Regions from separate parts of the Homo sapiens genome. Here regions 2, 3 and 4 are each reported to be linked to region 1. Evidence: microRNA targets listed by miRTarBase, many of them from high-throughput screens and not tested one by one. Region 1 holds a microRNA gene; each other region holds the end of a gene's coding sequence.
What was found. The annotated mature microRNA hsa-miR-3160-3p reads AGAGCUGAGACUAGAAAGCCCA and lies in region 1 at 1,281-1,302, shown strand. An mRNA with a match to its seed (bases 2 to 7 or 8) in the 3' UTR can be bound and repressed. Matches are read on the target gene's strand: a 7mer-m8 pairs with bases 2 to 8, a 7mer-A1 pairs with bases 2 to 7 and ends in A, and an 8mer does both.

Region 2: the mRNA of RPS19 is a reported target of hsa-miR-3160-3p. Seed matches in the 3' UTR shown: 8mer at 2,565-2,572.
Region 3: miRTarBase lists USP9X as a target of hsa-miR-3160-3p. Seed matches in the 3' UTR shown: 7mer-m8 at 654-660.
Region 4: the mRNA of CLEC12B is a reported target of hsa-miR-3160-3p. The part of its 3' UTR that is shown has no 7-base or 8-base seed match.

Annotation. Positions count from the first base shown.
Region 1 is chr11:46,449,923-46,453,116 of GRCh38, reverse strand. It overlaps MIR3160-1 (microRNA 3160-1), which reads left to right and starts at 1,228; the gene lies at 1,228-1,312. The region is part of intron 11 of AMBRA1 (autophagy and beclin 1 regulator 1); the gene reads left to right. It overlaps MIR3160-2 (microRNA 3160-2), which reads right to left and starts at 1,310; the gene lies at 1,230-1,310.
Region 2 is chr19:41,870,862-41,874,055 of GRCh38, reverse strand. It overlaps RPS19 (ribosomal protein S19), which reads right to left. Exons shown (of 6, transcript NM_001022.4): 6 at 1,131-2,705. The coding sequence ends at 2,679. Among named protein-coding and RNA genes, the nearest start is that of MIR6797, 2.8 kb to the right of the region's middle. RefSeq lists enhancers at 448-697, 2,011-2,270, 2,511-2,580.
Region 3 is chrX:41,232,261-41,235,260 of GRCh38, forward strand. It overlaps USP9X (ubiquitin specific peptidase 9 X-linked), which reads left to right. Exons shown (of 45, transcript NM_001039591.3): 45 at 127-3,000. The coding sequence ends at 264. Among named protein-coding and RNA genes, the nearest start is that of LINC02601, 42 kb to the right of the region's middle.
Region 4 is chr12:10,017,905-10,021,098 of GRCh38, forward strand. It overlaps CLEC12B (C-type lectin domain family 12 member B), which reads left to right. Exons shown (of 6, transcript NM_001129998.3): 6 at 427-892. The coding sequence ends at 577. All of the region lies in intron 2 of LOC102724020 (a long non-coding RNA gene), which reads right to left. Among named protein-coding and RNA genes, the nearest start is that of CLEC12B, 8.9 kb to the left of the region's middle.

The sequences.
Region 1 (3,194 bases):
GGGCAGGAGTGGGACAGAGTAAAAGGGAGTGACTGTTAATGGGTACGGTATTTAGGGGAGATGAAAATGCCTGAAATTAGACAGTAATGATGGTGGTTGTAAAATTTATTTGCTGATGGTTACATAACTGTGCGGATATGCTAATAACCTTGAATTGTATACTTTAAAATAGGTGAATTGTAAGTTATATCTCAGTAAAGCTATAATTTTAAACAGACAGACACACATATATATTTGGGCATTTTTCTCAATGTCAGAATCATAAATGAGAACTCAGAGAAACTTGGGACACTTCTAAGCATGGAAGAAGTCTTCTTATTTGTCATCAGGGACTTTTTCCAGGTACCAGGCTATAGGATACATTGACTGTGATTTCAGATTAGATTAAATGATGATTAGAGTGAGTGTGACTGAGTACTTAGTTATACCCCTTTCTTAGGACAGATTTTAAGACTGCATTTGAATGAAGCTTTCTGGAAAGAAGATTAAGTGTTCTTCCTAGGATGCCATGCAGATATACTCAGAAAGGGAAGATGGTTCCCTTGCTCTGAGAATTATTTTTTGTAAACAGAAGCCAGTGTATTTATTTACAGAGAGCTCAGATAATCCATAAGAGAAAAGTTAAAGTAACCAAAGCTAGGTAGGGTAGCATGTGCCTGTTGTCCTAGTTACTGGGAAGTCTGAGGCAGGAGGATCACTTAAGGGCCAGGAGTTCAAGGCAAGCCGGGCAACATAGTGAGGCCCCATCTAAAAAACAAACAACAACAACAACAACAACAAAAAACCTTAAAATAACAAAGGTTTTTAAAATGTACATAAGACACTAGTAGACCATCTAAAAGATACACAGTGAGCTGGTAAACAAATGAAAAGATGTTCACCAATACTCTTAATTATTAAGGAAATGAAATGGATCCAAAAAATAGGATTACCATTTTTTACTTCACAAATTGATAGACATTTATTTGAATAGTGTTTTCTTAATAACAGCATTATTGAGATATGATTCACCTACCATACAGGCCACCTATTTAAAGTATACATTTCAATGGCTTTTAGTATATAGAGTTGTGCAGTCATCACCTCTATCTAGATATTTCATATCATCTTTATCACCTCCTAAAAAACCCCATACACATCAGCAGTCACTTCCCCTTTCCCTCTCTCACATCCCTCCAGCCCAAAGCAACTGTCAATCTGTTTGAAAAGTTGATAAGTTTTTCAGTTGGACCTGCCCTGGGCTTTCTAGTCTCAGCTCTCCTCCAGCTCAGCTGGTCAGGAGAGCTGAGACTAGAAAGCCCAGGGCAGGTTCATATAACAGCCAAGCAGAAAGATAGTAATTGTGTCTCCAGGATGATGAGTGTTTACATCCCCAACCCCATTCTTATTTCATCTTCCCAGCAGCACACAGTCAGAGATGGCCATTCTGAATTAGAAAGTCTCAAGTTAAACAGATTTTTCAGGACTGAAATGTAATTTAATCATTTCCTTCTTTGCAACTTGCCCTTTTTTACCTTCCCCGAATTAGCTTTTCTGATAGATTTGCTAATGATTCCCATTGTTCAGTATCTTCACTGAACTGTTGAATCATACTTTTCATTTCCCTTCTCCTAGAACAAATCTTAGAGAGAAGCTGTGAAGCTGTTTTGAAAAAAGATTCCTAATTCTTTCCAAGCAACAGAAGAGAAGAGTTTCTGAGAGAAGCAAAGGTAGAGAGATGCACAGAGGCTATTAGGCTTGGCAGAGCTCACCTATCATGTGACTGTGATGATTATTATGATTTTATCCCTAGACACATTCTGGGAGCTCTGGCCTACAAGTTGAAGACCTGACTCTGGAATGAGACTTGGCAGCTTAGTTTTTGCCATTGTTGTTGGCTGATAGTTAGCCAGGATCACTGGATTTAAGCTTCTTTTCCTCCTTGTTTTGTCTGTCATCAGAATAATCTTTATTTCTTCTTTTGCTCTAAGCCTCAATGAAAGGAATTTCTGTGGTTATATGATAGATATGAACTACCATGACTAGTATTGTCCTTATGAACAGCTGCTGTTCCCACTGTCTCCTAGAATGTGAATGAAAGTCGTGGCCCCTCCCTCTTTTTTAGGTTTATTAAAAGTTGAGTGGAAAATACAGACAGTTCCCATATACTCCCTCCCCTTACACCCACAGGCTTCCCCACTGTCCACACCAGTGTGGTACATTTGCTGCAGCTGATGAACCAACGTAGACACATCATTATCACTCAAAGTATGCGTTTACATTAGGGTTCATGCTTGGTGTTGTAAATTTCACTGGTTTTGGCAAATGTATGTGCCATGTATCCAACATTGTAGTAACATAGAAAATAACTTTACTGCTTAAAAAATCTCCTTGTGGCTGTACATGGTGGCTCATGCCTATAATCCCAACACTTTGGGAGGCCAAGGCAGGTGGATCTCTTGAGTTCAGGAGTTGGAGACAAGGCTGGGCAACATGGTGAAACCCCATCTCTACAAAAAATACAAAAAAAATCAGCTGGTCATGGTGGCACACACCTGTAGCCCCAGCTACTCGGGAGGCTGAGGTGGGAGGATCATCTGAGCCCAGAAAATTGAGGCTTCCGTGAGCCGTGATTGCACCACTGCACTCCAGCCTGGGCAATGGAGTGAGACCCTCTCTCAAGAAAAGAAAAAAAAAAAAAATCTTGTGCTCACCTGTTCGTCTCTGCCTCCCTGCAAACCAACCCCTACCAACTACCCATCATTTTTCTGTCTCTATAACTTTTCCTTTTCCAGAATCTCATACAGTTGGAATCCTATAGTATGTAGCCTTTGACTTCTTTCATTTAGTAACATGCACTTAAGGTTCCTCCATGTCTTTTTGTGGATTGATAGCTCATTTCTTTTAGCATGAATAATATTCCATTGTATGGATGTGCCACAGTTTATCCATTCATCTCTTAAATGAAGAACATCTTGGTTGCTTCCAAGTTTTGACAATTATGAATAAATAAATAAAGCTGCTATAAATATCCATGTGTAGGTGTTTGTGTGGACATTAGTTGTTTTTTTTTTTTTTTTTGAGACAGTCTCGCTCTGTTGCCCAGGCTGGAGTGCAGTGGCGTGATCTCGACTCACTGCAAGCTCCACCTACTGTGTTCAAGCGATTCTCCTGCTTCAGCCTCCTGAATAGCTGGGATTACAGATATGCGCCAC
Region 2 (3,194 bases), not on the chromosome of region 1:
GATCCACCTGCCTCGGCCTCTCCAAGTGTTGGGATTACAGGTGTGAGCCACCACTCCAGGCCAAGGTCTCAAACTCTTGACCTCAAGTGATCTGCCCACCTCTGCCTCCTAGAGTGCAGAATTTTAAAAAAGTGCAATTGCCAGCTGGGCGCGGTGGCTCACGCCTGTAATCCCAACACTTTGGGAGGCTGAGGCGGGCGGATCAGAAGGTCAGGAGATCAAAACCATCCTGGCTAACACAGTGAAACCCCGTCTCTACTAAAAATACAAAAATTAGCCGGGCATGGCGGCGTGTGCCTGTAGTCCCAGCTGCTGGGGAGGCTGAGGCAGAATGGCGTGAACCCAGGAGATGGGAAAAGGGCAATTCCCATCCACGCAGAAGAGCCTGGGCCTCAAGAGTCCAGGATTCTTTTACAACTCAGCTCTGCCAACTGACTGGTCATCTGAAACTCAGTTTTTTCTCCTATAACATGGGTACAAACCCCCCACTTGATAAGACTGCAAGAATATTCTGCAGTGCATTTGGCACAGTATCTAGGACAGTTCTGTAGCCCTGGGAACCAGGACCCCAGGTGTTCTGCTGGGGTCACTAGCCCCTCTGCACTTCAATTCCCCGTTACAACCCCCTCCCAGGAATAAGCCTGGCTCCAGACCTGGAAGCCCTAGGAATTCACCTTCAAGAGCCTTCGGTGGCTGAGCTTCTTTCTAGGCCCTCTACTGCTCCCCAGTGGCTGGAGCGGCGCGGCTGCGGGATTGCAGGCCTGCTCGGGACACCTAGACCTTGCTTCCTACCTGGGAAGCGCAATGCCTGCTGCTGTGCAAACCGGACGCTTGGCATTGAGTTCTCATGTCAGCTCTGGGAAATGTTTTCATTAATGGCCAAAAGAGGAAACTAGAGCCCAGAATGGGGAGTGACTGGCCTGCAGCTAGAGTGCAACCCTTTGGGCCTCTTTTCTGAGGCACAGAGCCCTTGGAGTGGCTAGGTCCAGGCTGCAGCTGGGTTGCTTGGGTTCATATGATGGCTCCAGCTGTGGGATATCTGGCAAGTTACCCAGCCTATGGCTTACTTTACCTACCTCCAAAGCACTTTTCGGCACTTACTTCACAGAGTTGCTGAGTGTAAACAACGGTGCTTTTAACATTTTTATTGATTCTTTTTTTGAAATGGAGTCTCGCTCTGTTGCCCAGGCTGGATTGCAATTGCTCGATCTCAACCCACTGCAACCTCCGCCTCCGGGGTTCGAGCGATTCTTCTGCCTCAGCCTCCTGAGTAGCTGGGATTACAGGTGCGCGCCACCATGCCCAACTAATTTTGGTATTTTTAGAGACAGGGTTTCTCCATGTTGGTCAGGCTGTTCTCAAGCTCCCAACCTCAGGTGATCAGCCCGTCTCGGCCTCCCAAAGTGTTGAGATTACAGGTGTGAGCCACTGTGCCTGGCCGATACTTCTTAAACTCTTACGCCTTACGTTTGGGGACTGCCAACTGAACTGTCCAGCAGCAGAGCTACTCAGAGCCAAGGCTCTCCACGGCATCTTGTCCAGTCTCTCAGGAGTTAGCAGGCTTACACACGAGGAGACGAAGGCTCAGAGGATAAGGTGCACAGGGTTACGTGGGATTAGGGGCAGAGTTGTGATTTAAACTCTAGTTTGAACTTCAAAACCCAGGCTCGCCCCTTTCCAGGAAATGGGTCAGATCCCAGGAATAATTTGGACAGGGGAATCCTGGGAGATATTGGCCAAACCAGTTTAGTCTTCCCAACTGGGAGGGACATCTGGTCACAGCGGGCCCTAAGTTTCTTTCCTGGCTTGCCCCTCCAGGGGTCGGACAGCTGCCCACTGGGTGCTATTTGGATCTCCCAGCCTGACCAGGTGCCCAATCATGGGCGGAGGCCACATCCCACTTGCCGTGCACGACTGCAAAGGTTGTGCAGCCCGTGTGTGGCCGCCCTGGTAATTCAACTTCTGCACAGGGATCTGCTTCCACCGACTTCCTGCCACTGCCACTCAGCGGGCCCAAGACCGCTCAGATGCAGAGTGAAGGCTCAAGGACCATTCAGCCTGTGCAGGCCCCAGGCCCAGGAAAGTTAGTGTGTAGGCAGCACAGGTCAGTTTGCGGTGGAGGCTCCCTGGTGGTCTGTCCTTTTCTACCTTCCAGGGAAGAGCATGAACCCTGGGCCCTCTTGCTTTACTCCAGCGGAAGCCACCTCTGCAGCCCAGGCCCAGCTGAGGTCACAGCTCACAGCCATCCTTTCGTTTCTCACTTTCTGACAATTGCAAAGACAGGATGTGGGGGAGTGAGCCACAAGGGCCCCTGGGTCCTTCCTCCAAACCCAGATGGGAACTGTTTGACCTGGGAAGGCCCGACTGGCTGCCGGGTAAACAGCCACCCAATCACCCTGGGCCCCCTCACCCAAGGGAAGGGAGGAAGCGCCTCTTCCTCATGCCCCTGAAGAACAATCAAGAGACCCAAACCAGACCAGGCACAGTGGCTCACACTTGTAATCCCAGCACTTTGGGAGGCTGAGGCAGGAGAATCATTTGAACCCAGAAGGCGGAGATTGCAGTGAGCTGAGATGGCGCCACTGCACTCCAGCCTGGGCGACAGAGCAAGAGACTCAAAAAAGAGACCCAGACCAGGATTACGAATGAGGCAATTTATTAACCCAGCATGGTTTGTTCTAATGCTTCTTGTTGGCAGCTGCCACCTGTGGGAAAAGATGGAAGAATAAAAGTTAGTCAAGGGGGTCTCTGCTGGGGCACTTTGTAACAGCTACCTAACTACCCACCACAGGTGGGCACCCCGATTTGTGGTTTCAAATGCATCTATCTCATCTAATTCTCACTGTGGGTATTCCCCCATTTCACAGACGTGGAAACTGAGTCTCAAGGGAGTGGCCAGGCACAGTGGCTCACACCTTTAATCCCAGCACTCTGGAAGGCCGAGGCAGGTGGATCACCTGAGGTCAAGAGTTCGAGACCAGCCTGACCAATATGGTGAAACCCTGTCTCTACTAAAAATATAAAAACTAGCCAGGTGTGGTGGTGTGTGCCTGTAGTCCCAGCTACTCGGGAAGCTGAGATAGGAGAATTGCTTGAACCCAGGTGGCAGAGGTTGCAGTGAGCTGACATTGCACCACTGCACTCCAGCCTGGGCGACAGAGCAAGACTCTGTCTCAAAAAAAAAAAAAAAAAAA
Region 3 (3,000 bases), not on the chromosome of region 1:
CCAAGGGTATTTACAGAGTAAGTCCCAAGAATAAGAGTATACATTTCCAGAGACTTCAGACCATGATTTTGAAGTTGTTTTACTATGTGAAAAGTTTTAACATACAGATCTTTTCTCCTTTCCCAGAATAACCATGTGCATGGACAGCCATATACAGGCCCAGCAGCACATCACATGAACAACCCTCAGAGAACTGGCCAACGAGCACAAGAAAATTATGAAGGCAGTGAAGAAGTATCCCCACCTCAAACCAAGGATCAATGAAATGCACATAATTAACTGGTTCCATCAAGACTGTGCACCCAGGCCTTACAGTCCAACCTTTTTCTGTGTCTGGCTAATATTTAAAACTAGAAAAACTATTCCTAATCAACATGGAGTGGAGAGTTTATTCACTGTCTTATCTGCAGAAATTTGCTGTCAATATATAACCCGCCTGCAGTGGAAAGTGTATAGTGTTTTGTAATAAATGGCCTGATGCTAATGTGTAAATGGCAAAGGTGTATATAGTATATTAATGTTGACTGTTAATTCTTAAGCAAGAAACTTTTTTCTTGATGAGACTCACAGATCTACACAAACTACAAAAGTTAATTTTCTTGTTACACCCACTGCACTCTGCAACCAGTGTTGCCTGCCTCATGGCAGTTGGATCAGCTCCTTTACAAAAAAGAAAAAAAAAAAACCAACAGCAACAAAACAGAGCCCATCCATGTCAGCCACACCAATAGTTTCATGTTAATTCTTTGCCACTGGAGTCAATTTTGCTATGAGCAATGTAAGGCTGGTAACCTTTAAATTATTTGGTTGATGTGGAAAATTGGTGATGTAACACTGTTTCTAGATTTTTTTCATTGCCTTTTTATTCTGATATTAGGTTAATCACTTTGAAGCTATAGTTATGCTGTAACATTTAGCATGGCTTCACACCAAGTTAGTGTAGCCAATGAGGAAAAAGTTACCATAATGACAGCAGTTGTCCGAGAAGTGACAGCTGTATTACTCAGAGCTTTTACTTCTTACACCTAGAATATTAAAATATAAAACAAGGGGAGAAATGTGACAGTCTATTTTCAGTTGCACATATGTTCCTTATATATAATGTTTGACAGTTCAATCTCTGGGTGGAATAAAGAACACTTACGTATCAGTAATGGGAATTTTTAAAGATTTAAAACAAATATGCAAAAATTTGCTATGCCAAGATGCTGGAGCATAATATAAGACTGTATTTGGTGTGCTTGTTTTGTTTCTTTGGTAGAGTTTATTAGGTGAATCTTCTAAAACTTTCCTTCTGTTGGATCCCAGTGACGTGGAAGTCATCAGAACCCCACGGTACTTGGAGTACCTCTCTGCACCAAGATAGCTGGCTGATTTTCTGCTCAGTCACAATTTTACTTGAAAGCAAGAATTGTCCTAGCTCCTTTTCCATTATTCCAAAACGTTTAACGTTCAAAGCAGGGTCTCATTAAAAAAGAAACTACTGGTTGATATAATTGAGATATTACAATTTCAGAATAAACATTTGATTAAAAATAAGGAAATCCTCAGTTCATACTGTATTTAAAAGAGAATTGGTAACTTGAATGTGTGTAATTTTTTGGAACCTGTCTAAAAACCAAATACCCCTGCAAACAGATACAGCCCACCCTATTCTATTTAAATATTTTGCTGTTTTATTTTATAGAAATTATTTTGCTGAATTCACAAATAGAATTTGATTTAAGAAGAACTTTTTGTCCTGTGGTGTGTTTTTGGTTTTTTTTTTGGTTACTTTTTTTGTCCTTTTTTTTTTTTTTTAAAAGAGGACTGCATATTAAAATTCATTCTGTGCATAGCATGCCTAGGCATGACACTGATTCAGGATTTCAGTCACATCAAGTTTTTGTGCACAGAAAGATTTGACCTTTGGCCCTCTACTGAAGATTTTGAGAAATCAGGATGTTGACACTGTAAAAGTTTCCTAACATAATCTTGTACTTTTTGTATGTTTTTTATATACATGTATATTTAATGAGCACAAGCTTGGTTGTATTTTTTACAATTCAGTTAATAGGGAAATGTTTTGTCAAAAGGCTACACTTGGAACTGAACAAAGCAGAAACAAAATTGAGCATTGCATTATTTTGTGATTAAAAGGGGCAGGTATTTAAGATAAAGCTTTGGGTATCTTATTTGTAGTACTGTATAGTCAACCTGTGCTTCTAGGTGTTCCTGTAGGACATTTTGACACCGATACTTTGAGTGAAAGTCACACACGGTGTTTGCAATTCCAACTGATTTTTGTTTTGTTTTTATTTTTTTGTTGTTTTCTTCTTTGAGATGGAGTCTTGCTCTGTCACCCAGGCTGGAGTGCAGTGGCACAATCTTGGCTCACTGCAACGTCGCCTCCTGGGTTCAAGCGATTCTTCCGCCTCAGCCTCCCGAGTAGCTGGGATTAGAGGTGCCCACCACCACGCCCAGCTAATTTTTGTATTTTTGTAGAGACAGGGTTTCACCACGTTGGCCAGGCTGGTCTTGAACTCCTGACCTCAGGTGATCTGGCCGCCTCGGCCTCCCAAAGTGCTGGGATTGCAGGTGTGAGCCACCGCGCCTGGCCCCAGTTGATAGTTTTTTTAATTTAAAAGTTCCTCAATTCCAAGCTCTTTAAACGAGTGAAATAGGTTAACTTTATTTGGATGAGTTAGGTGTACCATCTCACCATCTGAGAGGAGATTTATATATTTCCTGCTGCTCCTTAACAAAATATGTAATGTACTTAAAAACTTTAACGACTTCCTAGTTGAGAGAAAACTTGACATATAAAAGGCTGTGAATTTTTCTGCTTGGAGGAAGAGCCCAACCTTGGTTGCTTTGAAGTTACAAGCCCCCTTGTGCCAGGTGAGGGGCTTGTGAGTCATTTTTGTCTCCATTTGAGGAAGAGTGGTATTCGTTGTGACTAGGAGCAAGGGAAAGTGGAGTTATTTTTGTTTGTGCAAATTATTTTCTATATTTAACTCA
Region 4 (3,194 bases), not on the chromosome of region 1:
AAAATTATATTTGTGCATAATAAAATGTGATAACTTTTTACAACAGAATGTGATTTTATTTTTATGTTTTTCTTCATAAGGTCCCAAAGAACTTCAAGTACTTCTAATATAAGCTGAACTGATTAGATTTCATTAATGGAATTACATATTTATGAAGGAAATACAAATTCTCAGTCCAGGATTTAAGTATTTCTCTTAAAGAATTCTACCTGGGATTATGATTAACTTAAAATAAAGAACCCAGATGTGCCAGCTCTGGGCAGATTTTGTGCCAGCTTTAGGCAGCTTCAGATTTTGAAGCTTTGTGGAGGCAGAAGTCTCTCCATATTCAGATACATGACATTGGCTGTAAGAGCAACTGAGGGCACTAAATAGTGATCACGTTTCAAATACAGAATTTATAATTAATTTTAAATTAATTTTCAGATTTAGTACTAAAGAACTTGACCAGATCAATGGATCCAAAGGATGTGCTTATTTTCAAAAAGGAAATATTTATATTTCTCGCTGTAGTGCTGAAATTTTTTGGATTTGCGAGAAGACAGCTGCCCCAGTGAAGACTGAGGATTTGGATTAGTATGCTTCTTCCAAATTCTCCAAGAAGTAAGAGACTTGTGAGTAAGCTCATATGAGGAAAGAGGAAACTACGGTACCAGAGCCAAACCAGCTTTTAAAATGACTGTGTATTTACATTATCAGACAAATGAACTTGTTTAACAGAACATTCTCCAGTTCCTTGTCTGACGTCTTCTGATTTGATGTTATTATTCGGTCTTAAAATTATACCTGGGGACAAAGGGGAATAGCCATACTATGGCCCTATGATTGTCTCAGAATCATTTCACTGAATTTCTTTGCTTTCTCAAATAAAGACTCCTTTCTTTCATTATTATTATACTGTCACGTGTGCACTAGGGTGATATTTAAATATTTAAAAACTAGGGTGATATTTAAATATTTAAAAACACAGGCCACAGCACTAGAACAAGGTCCAAGAGATGCCTGTTGTGATAGTTGCTGGGTCATGTGGAGGTCTGGGGGATCCCAGGCTAAGGGTCCTGGTAGCTGGGGCTGCAGCACTGTATCAACTGATTTGGAAATATTTTATTTTAGCAAATGTTTGTACCACTGTGAACCAGCTAAGTGTCGCCCTGCACTTGCAAAATAGCTTTTCTTCTCCAACAACCCTATGAAAATAAGCGTTCTTATTAATCTTTAAAATTTAGATAATTTATAATCTAGGCATAATAATTTAATATTTACTTTTTTTTGAGACACTGTCTCACTCTGTTGCCTAGGCTGTAGTATTGTGATGTGATTGGCTCACTGCAGCCTCAATCTCCTGGGCTCAATCGATCCCTCCCACCTCAGCCTCCCGAATACCTGGGACCACAGGCATGCAACACCATGCTCAGCTAATTTTTGTATTTTTTTGTAGAGACGAGGTTTCACCATGTTGCCCAGGCTGGTCTCAAACACCTAGGCTCAAGCTATCTGCCAGCCTCAGCCTCCCAAAATCCTGGGATTACAGGTGTGAGCCACTGCCCCTGGCCAATATTTATGTGTTTGTCATTTATTTAAATTAGTAATATTGATGTTATTGATTTTGTAATCTGGGTATTATTATAAAAATATATTCTCTTACAATTGATATTTTGTTTCCCTCAGAAAAGTCCTAATAAACTGTTTGAAGACATCAAAATAGAAGAACCATTATCTTTAATTATTTAGACCTTTCCTGAATCACAGTTTGTCAGTGTTCCTGCACACTAGATGCTAAATATTGTAAATCTAGGGTTCAAGATTTTTCCTGGAACAAAATTGCTGATTTCAGAGTACTGGTAAAGGATGTAGTTTTCCATTTATCTTCACATAGTTCCATAGCTATATATAGGAAGAAAATAATGATAAATTAGCCTTTGATACTGATTTTGCTAGATCAGAAATCTAGAATTTACTGGAAAATTGATATAATCTAAATTCAAAGTTAGATGCATTTCAATACTTTGACAGTCCTTTGAAACTACCACTTCATACATACCATCTAGTAGCTTCTTATTCTCTAAATATTTAAAATTATCAACTAATCAATGTTTTATATAGGCACCAACAGAAACTCTAGAACAAAGGAAAAATGTCAAGTGTGAAAATTTAGTAAAAATTACAAACAATATATTTAAGCACAACTTTTTAAATACAGACAATTATCATAGTTCAAGTAAACAGTGTTTCTTAGTTCTTATACGGGATTCAAACATAAGTTATATACACATGGATTAAAGAAGAAACTTGATTCTTCCATTTCTCTTTAGCAGTTTGCCCCTGGCATTCTCACAAAGATAAAATTATTTCTTAAAGGTCAAAATCTGTGCCTCTGACTCTCACACATTTGGGTTTCGTTTTATTCCCATGAGAAAAATAAGTTCTTTCATTCCTCTATTTCTAATTAAAAAAATCTACTTTTAATAATTAAAATACCTTAGTTGGTTATTTTGTTCCTATTAAGAAGTTACAGGTTTTTTTTTCTGGTATCTTGTATATTTTAATTCTCATTTCATGTAAACTCTTTTATACTCATTAAAAGAAAATTTCTGTTTCTGACCTTACAGTGCTCTGGATCTTGATCAGCTCCTATTACTAAGAGCTCCCTCCCTGCTGCCCTGCTATCATCATATTATCCCTGACGACCTCTACAGTAGATGCATAAATCCAGAGTTCTCAAGATTCACTAGCCCTTTGTGTCAGAATACTTCATCCTTTGATTCTGATAACTTAGCTTATGAGACAGGACTTGATTCCAGAAATTTTCATCTCTTTCTTTTTCTTTCTTTCTTCCTCTCCTACTGCCCCTACACCCTCTCCAGTCAAAATCCCTGAGATATTTTATTTATATATACAGGTATATACAAATGGTATATTTTTAGGGGAAAGACCATTGATATGGTTTGGATCTGTGTCCTTACCAAATCACATGTCAAGATGTAATCCCCAATGCTGGTTGTGGGGCCTGGTGGGAGGTGATTGGGTTATGGGAGCAGATTTCTCATGAATGACTTAGCACCATCTTCTTGGTGCTGTTCTCATGATAGCGAGTTCTCGCAAGATCCGGTTGTTTAAAAGTGTGTAGCATCCCCACCAACCCCACCCCACACCCTCTCTCCTGCTCCTGCTCCAGCCGTGTGAAGTACCCACCC